Linked DNA regions of Homo sapiens. The protein of the gene in region 2 interacts with the protein of the main gene of each other region in a biochemical or structural test. Each region holds a gene or a part of one and is shown on either strand. Other genes may lie near its edges. The genes, in order: PTPRZ1 and IL34.

Region 1 (10,085 bases), on a different chromosome or scaffold from region 2:
CCCTGAATATAGAAATAAAGAGTTTGAAGGATATTTCTTAGATCCTCTCCAAACAGAAATGTATGACTTTGCAAGACAAAGTATCTGTAGCATGATCATGGCTTTACACTAACTTTTAAAAATGAAGTTGTGAAGGATAACATATGACACAGATCAAAACTACAGTGGAAGAGTCACAATAACTCTATAAAGAAATTGTAGGAAAGAGTATTTGTTAAAATATTTGTAGTCAGATATGAATAAAGTAATCATAGGGTATGAATGATATGTTCTTCTTAAAATGTTGACATAGCCAATGTGACCTTACAGCGATCAACAAGATATGGTAGGGTAGGATTAATGAAGGTCTAATCACCCTCACTGGGTTCTGAGAGGTTCTGAACCTCATAAAGTTTATAGAACGCATATGTATCTGATGTGTGCATAGTTTTTTCCCAACTATGTAATAAGAAGAGGTGTGTAGCATTATGTTACAATAAAAATTTTATGAAAATTTACATTGCTTATAGGAGGATATGATAAAGGATGTTTATGTGGAAATATAAGCAAAGAGAAAGAAATGTAATATTATTGTGGAAGTCAATAGACATTGTTAGATCATATAGAGAAAATGGATGACATATCTTTGGGGAACTTTTGCTGTGAAGGAGAGACGAGAAGTAGAATGATAACTAGAAGGTGAATTAGAGGTTTTCCTTTGTGTTTCCTTTAAATAAGAGAGATCAGAGTTGATTTAAGCTGATGAGAATTATCTGTTTGAGAATTTGAGAAAACAAATCAGAAACACAAAATAGACTGAACTACTCAATTATGTTCAATTCCCAGGTTCATGATAGGGACTAGATCTAAAACACAGAAGTGCGAATTAGCTTTAGAAAGGAAGGAAAACAACTCTTTAGTTATAACAGGACAGGAGGGGCAGAGATAACTTGGTTGGTCCCTGTTTTTATGTTAAGAAGAAGTGTGTCTTTGGTGGCTTCTATTTTCCCTGAAAACAGGAAGGCCATCTGCTGAGAATGGGAGGAAAGGATAGGAAAATGAAGGTTTGACAGAGTTTTGGTAGAGAGAAGGAGTGTGGAGTGATACCAGAAAACTAGGCAAATATTTAGGTTTGCAAAAACAAGGAAGAGTTTAGAAACTCCACACTGCCAAGCTTAACATTGATCCCCAGCAAAACTCTGCATCACATTATAAAACAAATATTTATGAGAACTTCTAAGGAAAGAAGAGATAATTGGCACCAACCAATTTTCCCTAAAAGCAAGTCAAGGCAAATTATTCTCATTTCCTTTTGCATTAAGTTTTTAGGTTTGTAGATTATAGGAATATTTTATTTAGGAAATTATTTGGGAAAATCTCTCAGGTGGTCCTTGTGAACAAGGTATCACACAGAATGTAAAACTTCATAAAGAATACTGACTACTTGTAAGGAAATTTTTCAAGGGAATCTGAGAGAGTAGCCATTTTTAGCACTCAATATAATTCAGATCAAGTGCACTAACTTCCTAAAGTTGTCACTTATGCTTCAGAAGATACTCACGACCAGCCAAATAATTAAGCTGTAAATAATGAGGCAGCCATTAAGCTTGGAATCGTGTGTTTCATACAGTGCAGATTTCCGTGTGTATGACACATGCTCATGAGCACACACAGCTTAAGATTCAGATTCTTTCTACTGATACTGGTCAAGTTCTCAATGGCTGTACTCAGTAATTTTTTTCTTTTAAGGAACATGGCCTTAAAATATCTAATAGATGATCAAATAAATGACAATTCTAACAAGCTGTTGGGTACAAAGATACTGACAAAATCATGTCCCACATGAACTAAAAAAAAAAAAAAAACTTGATAACTTTGGCAATTGAGTTTTCTAAGTATATAATTAGATATAATATACCCAGTTTTATGTATATATACGTATATGTATATATATACATATATTGAATCTTCCATGCAATGAAGATTATGCTTAAAGCATAGGTCTTGGTTAACTTCTAGCTAGAAGACTAGACGTCTCCTCCTGGGTCATTGCATGGAAGATTCAGCCTCCTGAATGGTGATTCTAAGGGAAACACAAAATTAAAAAACTAGGAGTAGAATCATATATTGACAAGTTGCCTTTGAAATATCTGCCTAAGTCTTAAGTGGAAAATATTAAAAAACAAAAGGAAAAGAAAACCAAACACCTCTTTTAGTTCTAAATCTTCCCCTTATTATGACCTTAAAATTATGATTTGCTCTAAATAGATATAATTAAATATTCTGAATGTTCAACTACTTTGGTCTTTAAAATAGTTTCATCGCCAATTCTTATTACAATAAGCTAATGGCTATTTACCTTGATGCCTGATGAACAAAGAAATATAAAAACAATAAAATAAATGCCATGTTAAATAACACTGTCAATAAATAACTACAGTGTGTCTTCCTTTTAAATATGTGGTATCTATTCATTTAACCACTTCTTTCCATAGCATTAAAATAAAGGCGGCCATAAATTAGGTGTTTTCATTACGTTTAATTACTCCCCTGTAGAGCGGATGGTAAAGGTTGTAGGTTAGAGGTATGCATTGTACAGAATGGTGTTTTATGAGGATGAGAAGTTCCCAAGATACCACAAGTGATGATTGGCAGTGTAAGATATGAAGATTTTCTTTTTCTCTTATTTCCTTATGACTCATTAAATCTTGTTTGCTTTTCAAAGGAGGAGGAAGAGGGAAAAGACATTGAAGAAGGCGCTATTGTGAATCCTGGTAGAGACAGTGCTACAAACCAAATCAGGAAAAAGGAACCCCAGATTTCTACCACAACACACTACAATCGCATAGGGACGAAATACAATGAAGCCAAGACTAACCGATCCCCAACAAGAGGAAGTGAATTCTCTGGAAAGGGTGATGTTCCCAATACATCTTTAAATTCCACTTCCCAACCAGTCACTAAATTAGCCACAGAAAAAGATATTTCCTTGACTTCTCAGACTGTGACTGAACTGCCACCTCACACTGTGGAAGGTACTTCAGCCTCTTTAAATGATGGCTCTAAAACTGTTCTTAGATCTCCACATATGAACTTGTCGGGGACTGCAGAATCCTTAAATACAGTTTCTATAACAGAATATGAGGAGGAGAGTTTATTGACCAGTTTCAAGCTTGATACTGGAGCTGAAGATTCTTCAGGCTCCAGTCCCGCAACTTCTGCTATCCCATTCATCTCTGAGAACATATCCCAAGGGTATATATTTTCCTCCGAAAACCCAGAGACAATAACATATGATGTCCTTATACCAGAATCTGCTAGAAATGCTTCCGAAGATTCAACTTCATCAGGTTCAGAAGAATCACTAAAGGATCCTTCTATGGAGGGAAATGTGTGGTTTCCTAGCTCTACAGACATAACAGCACAGCCCGATGTTGGATCAGGCAGAGAGAGCTTTCTCCAGACTAATTACACTGAGATACGTGTTGATGAATCTGAGAAGACAACCAAGTCCTTTTCTGCAGGCCCAGTGATGTCACAGGGTCCCTCAGTTACAGATCTGGAAATGCCACATTATTCTACCTTTGCCTACTTCCCAACTGAGGTAACACCTCATGCTTTTACCCCATCCTCCAGACAACAGGATTTGGTCTCCACGGTCAACGTGGTATACTCGCAGACAACCCAACCGGTATACAATGGTGAGACACCTCTTCAACCTTCCTACAGTAGTGAAGTCTTTCCTCTAGTCACCCCTTTGTTGCTTGACAATCAGATCCTCAACACTACCCCTGCTGCTTCAAGTAGTGATTCGGCCTTGCATGCTACGCCTGTATTTCCCAGTGTCGATGTGTCATTTGAATCCATCCTGTCTTCCTATGATGGTGCACCTTTGCTTCCATTTTCCTCTGCTTCCTTCAGTAGTGAATTGTTTCGCCATCTGCATACAGTTTCTCAAATCCTTCCACAAGTTACTTCAGCTACCGAGAGTGATAAGGTGCCCTTGCATGCTTCTCTGCCAGTGGCTGGGGGTGATTTGCTATTAGAGCCCAGCCTTGCTCAGTATTCTGATGTGCTGTCCACTACTCATGCTGCTTCAGAGACGCTGGAATTTGGTAGTGAATCTGGTGTTCTTTATAAAACGCTTATGTTTTCTCAAGTTGAACCACCCAGCAGTGATGCCATGATGCATGCACGTTCTTCAGGGCCTGAACCTTCTTATGCCTTGTCTGATAATGAGGGCTCCCAACACATCTTCACTGTTTCTTACAGTTCTGCAATACCTGTGCATGATTCTGTGGGTGTAACTTATCAGGGTTCCTTATTTAGCGGCCCTAGCCATATACCAATACCTAAGTCTTCGTTAATAACCCCAACTGCATCATTACTGCAGCCTACTCATGCCCTCTCTGGTGATGGGGAATGGTCTGGAGCCTCTTCTGATAGTGAATTTCTTTTACCTGACACAGATGGGCTGACAGCCCTTAACATTTCTTCACCTGTTTCTGTAGCTGAATTTACATATACAACATCTGTGTTTGGTGATGATAATAAGGCGCTTTCTAAAAGTGAAATAATATATGGAAATGAGACTGAACTGCAAATTCCTTCTTTCAATGAGATGGTTTACCCTTCTGAAAGCACAGTCATGCCCAACATGTATGATAATGTAAATAAGTTGAATGCGTCTTTACAAGAAACCTCTGTTTCCATTTCTAGCACCAAGGGCATGTTTCCAGGGTCCCTTGCTCATACCACCACTAAGGTTTTTGATCATGAGATTAGTCAAGTTCCAGAAAATAACTTTTCAGTTCAACCTACACATACTGTCTCTCAAGCATCTGGTGACACTTCGCTTAAACCTGTGCTTAGTGCAAACTCAGAGCCAGCATCCTCTGACCCTGCTTCTAGTGAAATGTTATCTCCTTCAACTCAGCTCTTATTTTATGAGACCTCAGCTTCTTTTAGTACTGAAGTATTGCTACAACCTTCCTTTCAGGCTTCTGATGTTGACACCTTGCTTAAAACTGTTCTTCCAGCTGTGCCCAGTGATCCAATATTGGTTGAAACCCCCAAAGTTGATAAAATTAGTTCTACAATGTTGCATCTCATTGTATCAAATTCTGCTTCAAGTGAAAACATGCTGCACTCTACATCTGTACCAGTTTTTGATGTGTCGCCTACTTCTCATATGCACTCTGCTTCACTTCAAGGTTTGACCATTTCCTATGCAAGTGAGAAATATGAACCAGTTTTGTTAAAAAGTGAAAGTTCCCACCAAGTGGTACCTTCTTTGTACAGTAATGATGAGTTGTTCCAAACGGCCAATTTGGAGATTAACCAGGCCCATCCCCCAAAAGGAAGGCATGTATTTGCTACACCTGTTTTATCAATTGATGAACCATTAAATACACTAATAAATAAGCTTATACATTCCGATGAAATTTTAACCTCCACCAAAAGTTCTGTTACTGGTAAGGTATTTGCTGGTATTCCAACAGTTGCTTCTGATACATTTGTATCTACTGATCATTCTGTTCCTATAGGAAATGGGCATGTTGCCATTACAGCTGTTTCTCCCCACAGAGATGGTTCTGTAACCTCAACAAAGTTGCTGTTTCCTTCTAAGGCAACTTCTGAGCTGAGTCATAGTGCCAAATCTGATGCCGGTTTAGTGGGTGGTGGTGAAGATGGTGACACTGATGATGATGGTGATGATGATGATGATGACAGAGGTAGTGATGGCTTATCCATTCATAAGTGTATGTCATGCTCATCCTATAGAGAATCACAGGAAAAGGTAATGAATGATTCAGACACCCACGAAAACAGTCTTATGGATCAGAATAATCCAATCTCATACTCACTATCTGAGAATTCTGAAGAAGATAATAGAGTCACAAGTGTATCCTCAGACAGTCAAACTGGTATGGACAGAAGTCCTGGTAAATCACCATCAGCAAATGGGCTATCCCAAAAGCACAATGATGGAAAAGAGGAAAATGACATTCAGACTGGTAGTGCTCTGCTTCCTCTCAGCCCTGAATCTAAAGCATGGGCAGTTCTGACAAGTGATGAAGAAAGTGGATCAGGGCAAGGTACCTCAGATAGCCTTAATGAGAATGAGACTTCCACAGATTTCAGTTTTGCAGACACTAATGAAAAAGATGCTGATGGGATCCTGGCAGCAGGTGACTCAGAAATAACTCCTGGATTCCCACAGTCCCCAACATCATCTGTTACTAGCGAGAACTCAGAAGTGTTCCACGTTTCAGAGGCAGGTTAGTTACGGATCAGAAGGACAGATTGAGGTGTGGTGGTTTGCTTGCTCTAAAAGTAAAATGAAAATTATAGAAAGATAGAAATTTGGTAAAATGGTACATCATCATTTTTAAAATCAAAACATTCAACAAATCAGTCTCCAGTTTCTGAAGTATAATTTTATTTATTATTTCAAACAATTATTTAACACATTTTGGTTTTTAATTTAATTCTCTCCAAAATAGACAAAACAATTTTTATTTATTGTCAATATTTCATACTCTACAGGATGTCTTTTATGGGTGGGGGCAATTCTGTTTGCATAATACATTTTTAGTACACTGCTTTTAAAGCAAGATCAGAGTATGCTATTTTAGATGATTTTAATTTTCATACTTTTGTTCTAAAATAAGTTGTAAACTAATTCTATTTAATTATAAAATGAATTATTAAATCTGAGAGTAATGTGACATAAGCACTTCTCTCTGACACACCCCTGTAGAAAGGAATTAGTTAATTTCCACATTCATATCAGCTTGGGGAGCTTTATTTATTATTATTATTTAATTAATTAATTAATTAATTTTGAGACGGAGTCTCGCTCTGTCGCCCAGGCTGGAGTGCAGTGGTGCAATCTCGGCTTACTACAAGCTCCGCCTCCCAGGTTCACGCCATTCTCCTGCCTCAGCCTCCCGAGTAGCTGAGACTACAGGCGCCCACCACCACGCCAGGCTAATTTTGTGTATTTTTAGTAAAGACGGGGTTTCACCATGTTAGCCAGGATGGTCTTGATCTCCTGACCTCGTGATCCACCCGCCTCGGCCTCCCAAAATGTTGGGATTACAGGCGTGAGCCACTGCACCAGGCCAGGGAGGTATTTATGTATTTATTTATTTATTTAGTTTTATTACTAAGTTTTGAGAGTTAATAATGAAGTTAAAAAAAATTTTAATTTTTTTGTCTTTCTTTATCTTAATGTTGCCTAAAGAGGGCAGTGTAAACCATCAAAATACATTTTACTTTATGCCTGCTGTTACACACTTTTTTAAGTTAAATAATGGGCATTAATATGTACAGTATGTATAGGTATTGTATCACAAGATGTAAAACACTAAACATTTTTCTGTAGAAATGAATTTCATTTGTGAATGTATTTTATGCAAATTAGCTTACTGACCAGATGTTTCTTAGAGCAGATTATGTGCAGTGTTTATAATACAGATGTCTGCTTTAAATGCCAATGGAAAGAAGAGGGAAGTTCAATCCTATTAAGTATAGAAAAGTAATACTTTCATTGAATTGGTCATAAGAATTTTATAATTTGCTTTTATTAAATGTGAACGTATCTTAAAGTTTAATAATGAAACTATTTAAATCTTAACATCAAGTTAAATGATAGGCTAATGTAACAAAATGCACTCATTGTATAAAAGTGAATATTTGTAATCCAGAACATAGACATCAGTCTCATTAGAATATTTTTCCTCTTTGCGATTTCATCTTTTTAATTAGTTGTATATTTTTTCTTCAGTGCAGCAGCAATTAAAAGTTTGTACATTTTGATAGAAAACTTTTTCTGTATTCTGAATTGATACCTATTTAACATTGCATTTTAAACACTTAAATGCTGATATGTGAGAATGAATAATGAATCCATAGGTCACTATAGTCATTAGTGCTGTCATATATATGAACTGTTATCTGTTCTCAATTATAGTAGCTGCTTTTTAGTTTTCATTAGATTTATGTTAAAAGAAAATATCAGGAATCCATCTATCTGTCTTACCAGGTAGTGACATTGATACGTTCTTGCTAGACTATGCTATTATAGAAGGATATATATAATGAGATGCTAAACCTAAAATTATTGACTAAAGCTTAGCAAATTTCTCTTCAGTGCACTAATTAGTTTTATTTAATTATCAAGAGTGTGTTCTCCCACTAATTAGGATAAAACAATATGAATATGACATCCAACATTATCAAGTAACATAATTAGTGAAGTAAATAAGATCAAACAAGATTAGGGGAAAATTCTGGCCTATTTTTAAAACTGTATCTATAAAATCATATGTAATCTGTCTTATCCAATAATTGAATATATCCCTTTATCAAATGCATGCAGACTAGCTCTGAAACTTAAGATTTTATGGTGTATTTCTAGAATGCAGAACAATTTACAGGATGTGTTCTTTAAAATACTATAGATAAGGCAAATATTAGTATCCACAATTTATAAATGAGTACACTGACACCCAAAGATACTAGATTATTTGATCCAGGTCACATGAGTAAATACAAAACTGAGCCTGGAAATGTCTATCTCTTAAAGATTATGCTTTCATGTTAGGGGCCAATTAAATAAATGTAATGCTTAAATTGTAATACCAAAATTATACTATCTTATTCTCAAAACATCTTTTAAAATGTTAATCTTAGTTTTTTATTTCTTAATTACCTATTAATTAAATATTTTAATTTAGGTAACTCATATATACTACTGAGCCATCTCAAGGAGATATTTTAGTCTCAAATAAATAAAAATAAAATCAGTAAAATTAATTCCTCATTATAGTACACAAAGCAACCAACTGATTGTCTGTGCTTTCATAAGATATCCTATTTTGTGTAAAAGAGCTAGGTTTCATGCCATAGTTTGATCATTCTGACTCCTTAATTAAAGGATTTAAGATCAAATATCCCAGAGCACTTTTGAGAAAAGTTTATACACAAGACTATATGTGTGTGCATGTGTGTATACAGTGTCTGTATATAAATATGTGTATATGGTATATTTACATATATAATGCATTATATATCTTACATATATGACATATATGATAGGACATATCTCATATATATGTATGCTATACATATATAAATGAAATATGTAATTATATATATATATACCCATATACATGTTGCTTTGAAAATTTGTGGCTATTGAAGACCTGCATAATTATATAAGCTTACTTCGTACATATATTAATCTACATCACTGGTTCTCAAACTTTAACATAGATCAAAATCAACTGGAGGACTCGTCAAAACACAAATTGCTGACCCTTACACACAGAGTTTCTGGTTCAGAAGATTTTGTATGGTTTGAGCGAAGCCTAAAATTTGCATTTCTAAGTTATGATGATGTTGATGCTGCTATTCTGGGGATCAAACGTCAAGAAAATCTGATATAGATAATAATATTAACCACCATTTGTACTAAATGAGGTACCAAGGACTTTGCTAAGTGAATGTTTTCATTTATTACTGACACACTTACTTTCCATCTAGGTAACAATAGTTACAATAGAAAAAACTGTGAAGACAACCATGTATAAAATAAGATGTTTTTCTAAATTTTATAAGGAAATGCTCATTGCATTCACCATCAGGTTATTTAGGTGACTAGATGATTCTAAATGAGTCTCCACAAAATAATGGCCAGAGCTTAGGATTAACATTTTAAAAAATGGAGTCTTGGGCTTTTCTCACAAGAATATTAGCTACAACTCAGGGCTGAGTTGGCTTAGAACATTTTCACTTTTTATACAGTTTTATGATTTTTAATCACACCTTTGAATTCCATTTTTCCTAGTAAATGCATTTATAGTTATAAGACCAAACATCTTGGGAAGTGTGTGTGCCATTTATATTCCTGTGATACATTACATTTATTTATTTATTTATTTATTTATTTATTTATTTATTTTGAGATAGAGTCTCACTCTGTTGCCCAGGCTGTAGTGCAGTGGCGTGATCTCAGCTCACTGCAACCTCTACTTCCCGGGTTCAGGCCATTCTCCTGACTCAGCTTCCCAAGTAGCTGGGATTACAAGTGTGCACCA
Region 2 (10,521 bases):
TCTAGGATGCAGAGAGTCTACCTTTCTAACAAGGTCCCAGGTAAAGCTGTGGCTGGGGGTCTGGAACCACAGACCTAGAGCAACAGTTGCAAGCTGGTGTCCCGAGAGCCACCTCTGGTCCACAAGGATTTCACACAACAATTCAAAATTTCAGCTTTTCTTTAAAAAAATCAGTACCTCTGTCCACACTGGGTCTTTTTTCCTGTGTGGCCATCACCATTGGCCGTCTACTTCACCTCCCAACCCTACAGCACCTGCCCTTCTCTGTGTCCCGTTCTGGGGCCCTGGGGACCCGGCAGCTGTGGCCTCAAGGCAGGGACTGTGCCTTGGAGTGACACTGAGCCTCCCAGCCTGACACGGTGGGCACACAGCTGCCCTGGAAACCCTGTCCACAGATGATCTGCCTCTCCCCCAACTGGGCAGCCTTCCTCTGAGTGCAGCCCAAACATCATTGCTAAGGGCAAGTTTCTTTTTTTGCTGCCTCCACCCACCCAGAGAAACAGGTTAACAAACAGGGACCAGGCAGGGACAGCACAGCCCCAACCTCAAGGCCACTGTCCCCCACATGCTCTGCACACCAGGAACCCCACAGCCAGTGCCACCCCTGACCTTGGTCAGGAGACCCACCCTGCCCTTGTCTTAGCCCAGAGGTAAGAACCCACAACACAGGCTGGGCACGGAGGCTCACACCTGTAATCCCAGCACTTTGGAAGGCCGAGGTGGGCGGATCACCTGAGGTCAGGAGTTCAAGACCAGTCTGGCCAACATGGTGAAACCCCATCGCTACTAAAAATACAAAAATTAGCCAGGCGCAGTGGCAGGTGCCTGTAGTCCCAGCTACTCGGGAGGCTGAGACACAAGAATCATCTGAACCCAAGAGGCAGAGGATGCAGTGAGCTGAGATCGTGCCGCAGCACTCCAGCCTGGGTGACAGAGTGAGACTCCGTCTCAAAAAATAAAAATAAAAATAAAATAATAAAACAACCTGCAAGACAGAGAGGAGGCTTAAGAAAGATCTGTGTGAGTACGGTACTCCCTTCCTGGTTCCCTGGCCCTGGGTTGACCCTATGTGCAGTGACAAGTGAGGCTTGTCACCCCCAGCCCCGGGGACCAAATCTGAACCTGTGCAGTGGGTTAAATAGCATCTCCTCCAAATCCACATTCACCCGAACCCGAGTGTGACCTTGTTTGGAAATGGGGTCTTTGTGAAGTAGGAGGTAGGACCGACTCCAGAGGCAGAGCCCTGACACTGGACCAAACTGAGGACTAGTGAAAACAGGGGTGGACGGGGCAGAAGCAGCATTCCAAAAGACATGCTCAGCAGTGTGCCATGTCAGTTTACCATTGCCATGGCAACGCCTGGGAGTTACCACCGCTTTCCATAGCAATGACCCAATGTCCCAAAAGTTACTACCCCTTCCCTAGAAATGTCTGCATAAACTGCCCCTTAATCTGCATGCAATTAAAGGTGGGTATAAATATGACTGCAAAAGGCCCCGAGCTGCTCCTCAGTACGCTTCCTCTGGCACAGCCCTGCTCTGCAGGAGCTGGCACAGAGCTATAACATCTCTTCAGTAAAGCTGTTTTCTTCTACCACCAGCTTGCCTTGAATTCTCTCCTAGGGAAAGCCAAGAACCCTCGCAGGCTAAGCCCCCTTGGGGGCTCGCCTGTCCTGTGCCACTTACAGGCATTATTAAATGAAGGATGTCAAGATTAGGCCATCCTGGATTTAGGCAGTTCCCTAAATCCAGTGACTAGTGTCCTAGGAAGAAGAGGAGAGGACATAGAGACACACAAAGGGAAAGGCCACGCAAAGACAAAGGGAGATCTGAGTGACTAGGCCACAAGCCAAGGAAGCCAGGAGCCACCAGGAGCTGGAAGAGGCAAGGGAGGCTCCTTCTCGGCACCTTTAGAGGGAACGCAGCCCTGCAGGCACCCTGATCTCACACTTCCGGTCTCCAGAACTGTGAGACGACACATTCCTGTTGCTCTAAGCCACCCGAAGCTTTCTAATTGGTTATGGCAGCCCAACTTCCTCAGCACCCCAGCCCCTGGGCACCAGCCCCCACCTCAATCTGCTGCTCTCCCTCTCCCTCATCCCCCAGCCAGTCTTTGCCTGGTCCTAAGACCCACCCCTCCTGGAGCTTTTTCCCCTCTCCCTTGCTTTTCTTTCTCTCTTTTTCTTTTCTCCTTTTTTTTTTTTTTTTTTTTTTTAAAGACAGGGTCTCACCCTGTTGCCCAGGCTGCAGTGCAGTGATGCGATCCTTGCTACTGCAGCCTCAACCTCCTGGGCTCAAGTGATCCTCCCACCTCAGCCTCCTGAGTAGCTGGGATTACAGATGTATGCCACCACACCTGGCTAATTTTCCTTTTTTTAGAGATGGAGTCTCGCTATGCTGCCCAGCCTGGTTTCAAACTCCTGGCCTCAAGCCGTCCTCCTGCCTTGGCCTCCCACAGTGCTGGGATCACGGGCGTGAGCCACCAGCCCAGCATCCCTTGCCTTTCATTCGCACCTCCACCTCCAGAATGACCCTCATTCCCTCCTGCACAGACGGTGACAGCAGTAACTCCTACAAACACCACCAGACTGATCTTCAAGAGCAGAGGAACTCCCAATCACGATTCCACCCCCGCCGGGCTCTCAAATCCTCCAGGGCTGCCTGCTATGGGGAGGGAGGCACACTTTGCTTGGCTCTCAAGGCCTCAGCCAGCCGGGTCCAAACCAGCTCCCAGCCTGGCCTCACCATCCCACCGCCAAACCTTTGCTCACACTGGCCCCTCTTCCTGGAACATGGGCCTCATGACCCCAGGTCTACCTGTGTGACCACCACCCCACCTTCTAGACCATTTCCAGTAGCCCCTCCCCCATGCTGCACCCCTGCTTCTCATGACCTAGGGGTTTCCAGAACATTGGGTCCAGCTGGGTCCTTCCACCCATCCTTAATGTCCCAACCCTTTGTTGTATATTTCCACAAGGGCCAGGGTGGACCCAACTCTTCTTTCAATCCCTCGCAGGCTCATACCCCAAACCTCCAACAGTTCCTGAGCACTCAACCCTGTGCCAGGCGTTGGAGACAGAGGCACGAGACAGCAAGGTCCTTGTTGTCATGGCAGTGACTCTGCAGTGGGCACGTGGGAGGCACCGGAAAAATGTGTTGAATTTGAGTCAATTGAACTGGATCTTGGAGACTGAGGGGATCTTGGTCTGGCCTCCCAGCCAGCAGGCATAAGAGGCTTCCAGATCCTTTTTTTCCTTTCTGTCCTCATTTCAACTTATTTTTCTTTTTACCAACAGTGTTATCTTTCTGCTTTTTAATTCTGTTCTGTTATGGAGGGAGGGTTGGAGGGGAACAGGCTGCCTTCTCCAGGCATCTGGCTGCTCTTCTGCCGTGGGTCTTGGGTCCCTAGACACTTTCACCAGCCCCTGCCCCCCTCCACCGGCCATACCCAGGACTGGGCCGCTGCTGCCCGCCCGGGGCTCCCCAACACCCACAAGCCTGGAAAGGTGAGATGCTGCCACCTACCCCCAGTGCCTGCCCCGACCTAAGACCACCCTGAGGACCATGCCCACCCAGCCAGAACTGCCCACCCAGCTTGCCCGTCGGAGCCCGAAGTGAGCGGCAGACAGGGCAGACGGCGGCCGTGGGAATCTCAGAGGGTGTCTGCAGTCCGGCTGGGAAGCATCGCAACTTCTCACCAGCAAGAATGCCCTGGTTGCTATGGTTACGGCAGATCCTGGATCTAGGCCAAGGCCTCCCAATGCAGGTCCCTAGGGACCCCCCAGTACTCACAGCGCAGCCAGGTGAAGCCCCGGGGCATGGTGGTGTTCCTCGTCCCCCTGAGAGCTCAGGCGCCGTCCCCAGCAGTGTGTCCACAGAGGCCTAAGCACGGCCTACATGGCCTCGGGGCAGCAGAGGTGGTCACTCAGTCAGGGAAGGGCTGGCCCTGGAGGAGTGGCTGGGCTGCGGGAGTGAGCAGGTGCCCCAAGGGCAGCAGCTGCCCTTATCTGCCCGGCAGCGTGGAGGACAGCCGGGGGGCGGTGGCCGCAAGTCCCATGGCAGCCCAGAAGCAGGTCTGAGCCGGTGGCTTGGGGGTCTTTCGGGGTCTTCCTTTCCAAGGAGCAGGAGGAGAGAGTCCCTGGCAGGCCCCTCGGAATCTGGGGCTGGGTGACGCTTTCTCTGATTTCTCCGACTGCAGCTGCTCAGTGTGAAATCTGGCTCTAGGAAGAGAAAGGAGGAGAGAAACTGATTATGTAAGAGCAGCGCTGCCACTCAGCCATCAGCCACAGCGCACACCGCACCCACGGCCTGCACAGGACCACCCGGCCCTGGCAGCTGGACACGGCTCACGTGAGAAATGACTTCAGGATGTCCGAACGGCCCTGGCCCATGAGTGAGTTATGATGACACCAGCTGGCAGCCTGGGGCCTGAACAAAAGCAGGACCAAGGAATGAACAGGTGGTTTGAGTTCACACATCGAGAGCCATGGTAGAGTCCATGAATGACTCAGGCTAAAGGACAGGTTAAAAAAGCAGACGAGCTCCCACTCCGAAAACAAGCCGGACGCAATGGCTCATGCTTGTAATCCCAGCACTTTGGGAGGCCAAGGTGGGAGGATTGCGTGAGCCCAGGAGTTCGAGACCAGCCTGGTCAGCATAGTAAGACCTCAGTTCTATTAATAAAAAAAAAATTAAGAAAAAAAAAATTTTTTTGAGACGGAGTCTCAGACTCTGTCATCCAGGCTGTAGTGCAGTGGCGTGATTTTGGCTCACTGCAGCCTCCACCTCCAGGGTTCAAGCAATTCTCCTGCTTCAGCCTCCCAAGTAGCTGGGATTACAGATGTGCACTACCATGCCTGGCTAATTTTTGTATTTTTAGTAGAGATGGGGTTTCACCATGTTGGCCAGGCTAGTCTCAAACTCCTGGACTCAAGTGATCTGCTGTCTTGGCCTCCCAAAGTGCTGGGATTACAGGCGTGAGCCACCGCACCCGGCCAGGACTAAGGTCTTTACATTCACTGAATCTCTCACAACAATCTCATGGAAGTGCAAAATCTCAGTTTATCAATGAGGAAACTGAGGCCCAGAAAGGTTAAGACACTTGTCCAAGGTCATACGGCTTGTAAGAAGTGTGACAGGAATTCAAACCCTGTGGGCTGGTGGCTGCTCCCAAAATTCGACAACCACACAGGGCTCAGCGTGTGTGCGTGGTCCTCCCATCTGCCCCTCTGGACTCTGCAAGGTCTGGACCATTGTGTCTGCTCTGCAGATCAGGCTGGAATTCCGTCTCTGATTTAGTTCTCTTCCATCCCCTCGCCTCCTCCCTGTCTCCCCTCTGGTGGGGGAAAATGGCTACAGAGTGACACCATCGGGGGAGAGCAGGTATGACTTGGGCATCTTCTTCATTGTGTGATCCATGGTGTCACCAAAGAATGCTGGCCCTTACCCTAAGAGGTGCCCAGCAGGCAGGCAGGGCCTTATAGAGAGAACACGGGTTGTTCAAGTTAATCCCTTATGCAGTCACCCTGAATCTCAGCCCCAGTCGCTGCCTGCTGCTGCTCCTCTTTTCCTTGTCCTTCCTCCTTTTCCTCCTTCCTCTTCCTCCTTCTCTTCCTCCTCCTCCTTCCTCGTCTTCCTCCTTCCTCCCTCTTCTTCCTCCTCTTTCCCCCTCCTCCTTCCTACTCTTCCCTCTTCCTTTCTCCTTCCTTCTCTTCCTCCTTCCTCGTCCTCCTTCCTTTTTCCTTCTCCTCCTTCCTCCTCTTCCTCTTCTTCCTCCTTCCTCCTACTCCCTTTCTCTTCCTCCTTCCTCCTCCTCTTCCTCCTTCCTCCTCTTCCTCCTTCCTCCTCCTTCTCCTCCCTCCTCTTCCTCCTTCCTCTTCCACCTCCTTCCTCTTCCTACTTCCTCCTCTTCCTCCTCTTCCCTCCTTCCTCTTCCTCCTTCCTCCTCCCTTCCTCCTTTTCATTCCTCCTCCCTCCTCCTTTTCCTCCCTCCTCCCTCCTCCTTTTCCTCCCTCCTCCCTCCTCCTCTTCCTCTTCCCCCTCCCCCTCCTCCTCCCCCTCCTCCTCCTCCTCACCCTGGCAATTCCCCTGCTGTTACAGCATCACTACAAACACTAACGTATCTAGAACATTTAGTTGTCATTAGTTTGGGGATTTTTTTCAGGTTTATTGAGGGCTAATTTACATATACTACATTTTACCCTTTTCAGTATACATTTCTAAAAGTTTTTAGCACATTTATAGAGCTGTGTAATTACTATAATAATCAAGATACAAAACATTTCCATCTACCCAAAAAATTCATTCCTTTATAGTGGAAGTTGTCTAAACAAACTGAAACAAGGTAGAATAGTATAACAGACCCCCATATAGCAGTTACTCAGATTCAAAAATTGTCAATCTGGCTGGGTGCAGTGTCTCACACCTGTAATCCCAGCACTTTGGGAGGCCGAGGCGGGTGAATCAGTTGAGGCAGAATAAACTCCAAGGAGAAGGGGAAAAAACAACTTCAAATACCAATAGAAAAACAAAAAAGTTATTTCCACAGAGTTGTCCATAAAAGGTCAGGACTTTGAGACCAGCCTGGCCAACATGGTGAAACCCTGTCTCTACTAAAAATACAAAAATTAGCCAGGTGTGGTGGTGCATGCCTGTAATCCCAGCTACTCAGGAGGCTGAGGCAGCAGAATCACTGGAACCCAGGAGGCGGAGGTTGCAGTGAGCCAAGATTGCTCCACTGCCCTCCAGTCGGGGCAACAGAGCGAGATTCTGTCTCAAAACAAAAGAAAAAAATGATCACTCTTCTGTCATTCCAGCTTCACTCATCCCCCAATTTTTTTTTCCAGGAATATTTTAAAGCAAATCTCAAACATGCCATTTCACCAGCATGTAGGGATTTTTAAAATATATAATCACAATATTGTCATCACACAACCCTCAAATTAATAACTCTTTAATATGATTTCATATAGAATCCACGTTCAATTTTCCCTGGTTATTTTTTAAATCTCTGATGTGCATCTTAAGTCTTTTTTCTTTTTAAAAATCAATATATAATTTGCATGCCATAAAATTTACCATTTTAAAGTGTACAGGCTGCGTGTGATGGCTCACACTTGTAATCCCAGCACCTTGGGAGGCCAAGGCCGGGGGATCGCTTCAGCCCAGGGCTTTGAGACCAGCCCGGGCAACATAGTGAGAACCCGTATCTACCAACAAAAATTTTTTTAATTAGGTGGGTGTAGTGGCACGGGCCTGTGGTCCCAGCTACTTGGGAGGCTGAGATGGGAGGATCACTTGAGCCAGGGAGGTCAAGGCTGCAGTGAACCATGATCACGCCACTGCACTCCAGCATGGGTGACAAAGCAAGACCCTGTCTCAAAATAAATAAATAAAGTGTGCAACAGCCAGGTGCAGTGGCTCACTCCTGTCATCCCTGCAGTTTGGGAGGCCAAGGCAGGTGGATCACCTGAGGTCAGGGATTCGAGACCAGCCTGGCCAATATGGCAAAACCCTATCTCTACTAAACATACAAAAGATTAGCCAGGCACGGTGGTGCGCACCTGTAATCCCAGCTACTCAGGAGGCTGAGGCAGGAGAATCACTTGAACCCGGGAGGCAGAGGTTGCAGTGAGCCGAGGTAGTCCCACTGCACTCCAGCCTGGGTGACAGAGTGAGATCCGTCTCAAAAATAAATAAAAATAAATAAAAATAAATAATAAAGTGTACAACTTTGTGGGTTTTTAGTGTACTAAGTTGTGCAACAGTCACCATTATTTAATTACAGAACATTTTCATCACCCCCAAAATAAACTCTGAACTCATTAGCAGTCACCCCCTATTCCCTCTTCCTCCCAGCCCCTGGCAGCCACTAATATTCTTTCTGTCTCTATGGATTTGCCTATTCTGGACATTTCATATAAATGGGATTGATTATGCAATACGGGACCTTTCATGTCTGGCTTCTTTCACTTAGCATGTTTTCAGGGTTCATTCATTTTGTAGCATGTTATGAACTGAATGTTTGTGTCTCTCCAAAATACATGTGTTGAAGTTGTAACCCCTAATGTGGTGGTTCCTGGAGATGAGGCCTTGGGAGATAATTAGGTTTGGATGAGGTCACAAGGATGGGGTCCTTATGGTGGGATAATGCCTTTATAAGAAAAGAAATCAGGCCGGGCTCAGTGGCTCACGCCTGTAATCCCAGCACTTTGGGAGCCCAAGGCGGGAGGATCACAAGGTAAGGAGTTCAAGACAAGCCTGACCAACATGGTGAAACACCGTCTCCACTAAAAATACAAAAATTAGGCGGGCGCAGTGGCAGGTGCCTGTAATCCCAGCTACTCAGGAGGCTGAGGCAGGAGAATCGCTTGAACTCAGAGGGCAAAGTTTGCAGTGAGCCGAGATCATGCCACTGCACTCCAGCCTGGGTAACAGAGTGAGACTCCGTCTCAAAAAAAAAAAAAAAAAAAAAGACATCAGAGTACGCTCACTCTCTCTGTCTCTGTCTTTGTCTCTCTCTCTCTCTGTCTCTTCCCATACTCACACAAAGAACTGGTCATGTGAGTACATAGTGAGAAGGTGGCCATCTGCAACCCAAGGGAAGAGCCCTCACCGGAAATCAATCATGCTGGTGCCCTGATCTCAAAGTTCCAGCCCAGAGAATGGTGAGAAAACAGATTTCTGTTGTTTAAGCCACCCGGTCTATGGTATTTTTTTATGGAAGGCCAGGTAAACTAAGACACAGCATGTATCCGTACTTTACTCTTTTTATTGTCAAATAATGCTCCCTTGCATGAATATCCCACATTTTCTTTGTCCATTTCAGATTGTATTGTTTTCTGGCTTCCTCCAAAATAACTAATGAGGATTTTTAGTGTCATTTTGAAATTATTAATTTTGGCCAGGCGCAGTGGCTCATGCCTATAATTCCAACACTTTGGGAGGTTGCGGGGGGGTGGATTGCTTGAGCCCAGGAGTTCAAGACCAGCCTGGGCAACACAGCAAAACCCTGTCTCTACAAAAAATACAAAAATTAGCCGGACAAGGAGGCATGCACCTGTACTCCCAGCTGCTAGGGAGGCTAAGGTGGGAAGATCACTTGAATCTGGGGAGGTGGAGGCAGCAACAGGCCATGATCATGCCACTGCACTCCAGCCTTGGCAACAGAGTGAGATTCCATCTCAAAAAGTAAAAAAAAAAAGAAAGAAAGGCAGGAAGGAAGGAAGGAAGGGAGGGAGGGAGGAAGGGAGGGAGGGAGAGAGGGAGGGAAAGAATTTTTTTAATTTATGTATTTCAATCCATTGAAGTTACTTTAAAGTCAGGCTTATTGAGGTGTAATTGATGGACAGTGAAGCTCACCTTCTTTAAGTATACAGTGCCCTTGGTTGGTGAACTTTTGGGCTGTTTCCACCTTTTGGCCATTATGAATAATATGGCTATGAAAATCCATGTGCAAGTTTTTGTGTAGGCATAACATTTTCTTGTTGTTGTTTTGAGATGAAGTCTCGCTCTGTTGCCCAAGCTGGAGTGCAGTGGTGTGATCTCAGCTCACTGCAACCTCTGCCTCCCAGGTCCAAGTGATTCCCCTGCTTAGCCTCCCAAGCAGCTATGATTACAGGCGTGCACCACCACTTCCGGCTGATTTTTTTGTATGTTTAGTAGAGACAGGATTTCACCATGTTGGCCAGGCTGGTCTCAAATTTCTGACCTCAAGTGATCTGCCTGCCTCGGCCTCCCAACGTGCTGGGATTACAGGTGTGAGCCACCACGCCCAGGCAACACTTTCAATTCTCTTGAGTATATACCTAGGAGTATATACCTATATACCCTGTATGTACATTCAGCCTTTTCTGGAAAAAGCAAAACTCCAGGGACAGAAATTATATCGGTGACATCCCAAAATGGGGAGTGGGGAAGGGGATTGACTGAGAAGGGGCGCAGGGGAATTTTGGGAGGTGAAGGAAATGCTTTAAACCCTGAATGAAGCGTTGGTATATTATTTGTTGAAATTTATCCAACCGTATGCTTAAAGAGGATGAGCTTTACCATACATCAACTATACTGCAAAAGGCCTGACTTAAAAATAACTTTAATTGATTGAAATATATATATTTAAAAACTAACTTTTTTTTTTTTTTTTATTGAGACGGAGTCTTGCTCTGTCGCCCTGGCTGGAGTGCAGTGGCAAGATCTCGGCTCACTACAACCTCCACCTCCCGGGTTCAAGAGATTCTCCTGCCTCAGCGTCCCAAGTAGCTGGGATTACAGGCATGCACCACCACACCCGGCTAACTTTTGTATTTTTAGTAGAGACAGGGTTTCATCTTGTTGGCCAGGCTGCTCTTGATCTCCTGGCCTCATGTGATCCACCCACCTCGGCCTCCCAAAGTGCTGTGATTACAGTTGACACAAGGTAATATAGCAAGAGGCTGTCCCTACAAAAATAAAAAATACAAAATTAGCCGGGCATGGTGGTGTGCACCTGTAGTCCCAGGTACTCAGAAGGCTAAGGCAGGATGAT

Evidence for each region.
Region 1: the proteins of IL34 (region 2) and PTPRZ1 form a complex in vitro, tested with the Homo sapiens proteins (one study listed by BioGRID).

What each region holds. Positions count from the first base shown.
Region 1 is NC_000007.14:122,007,630-122,017,714, forward strand, and holds part of PTPRZ1 (receptor-type tyrosine-protein phosphatase zeta isoform 1 precursor), read left to right. Parts: intron 1-2,704; coding exon 2,705-6,260; intron 6,261-10,085. UniProt on the Homo sapiens protein: Protein tyrosine phosphatase that negatively regulates oligodendrocyte precursor proliferation in the embryonic spinal cord. Required for normal differentiation of the precursor cells into mature, fully myelinating oligodendrocytes.
Region 2 is NC_000016.10:70,640,246-70,650,766, reverse strand, and holds the start of IL34 (interleukin-34 isoform 1 precursor), read right to left. Parts: upstream 4,209-10,521; 5' UTR 3,820-4,208; coding exon 3,792-3,819; intron 1-3,791. UniProt on the Homo sapiens protein: Cytokine that promotes the proliferation, survival and differentiation of monocytes and macrophages. Promotes the release of pro-inflammatory chemokines, and thereby plays an important role in innate immunity and in inflammatory processes.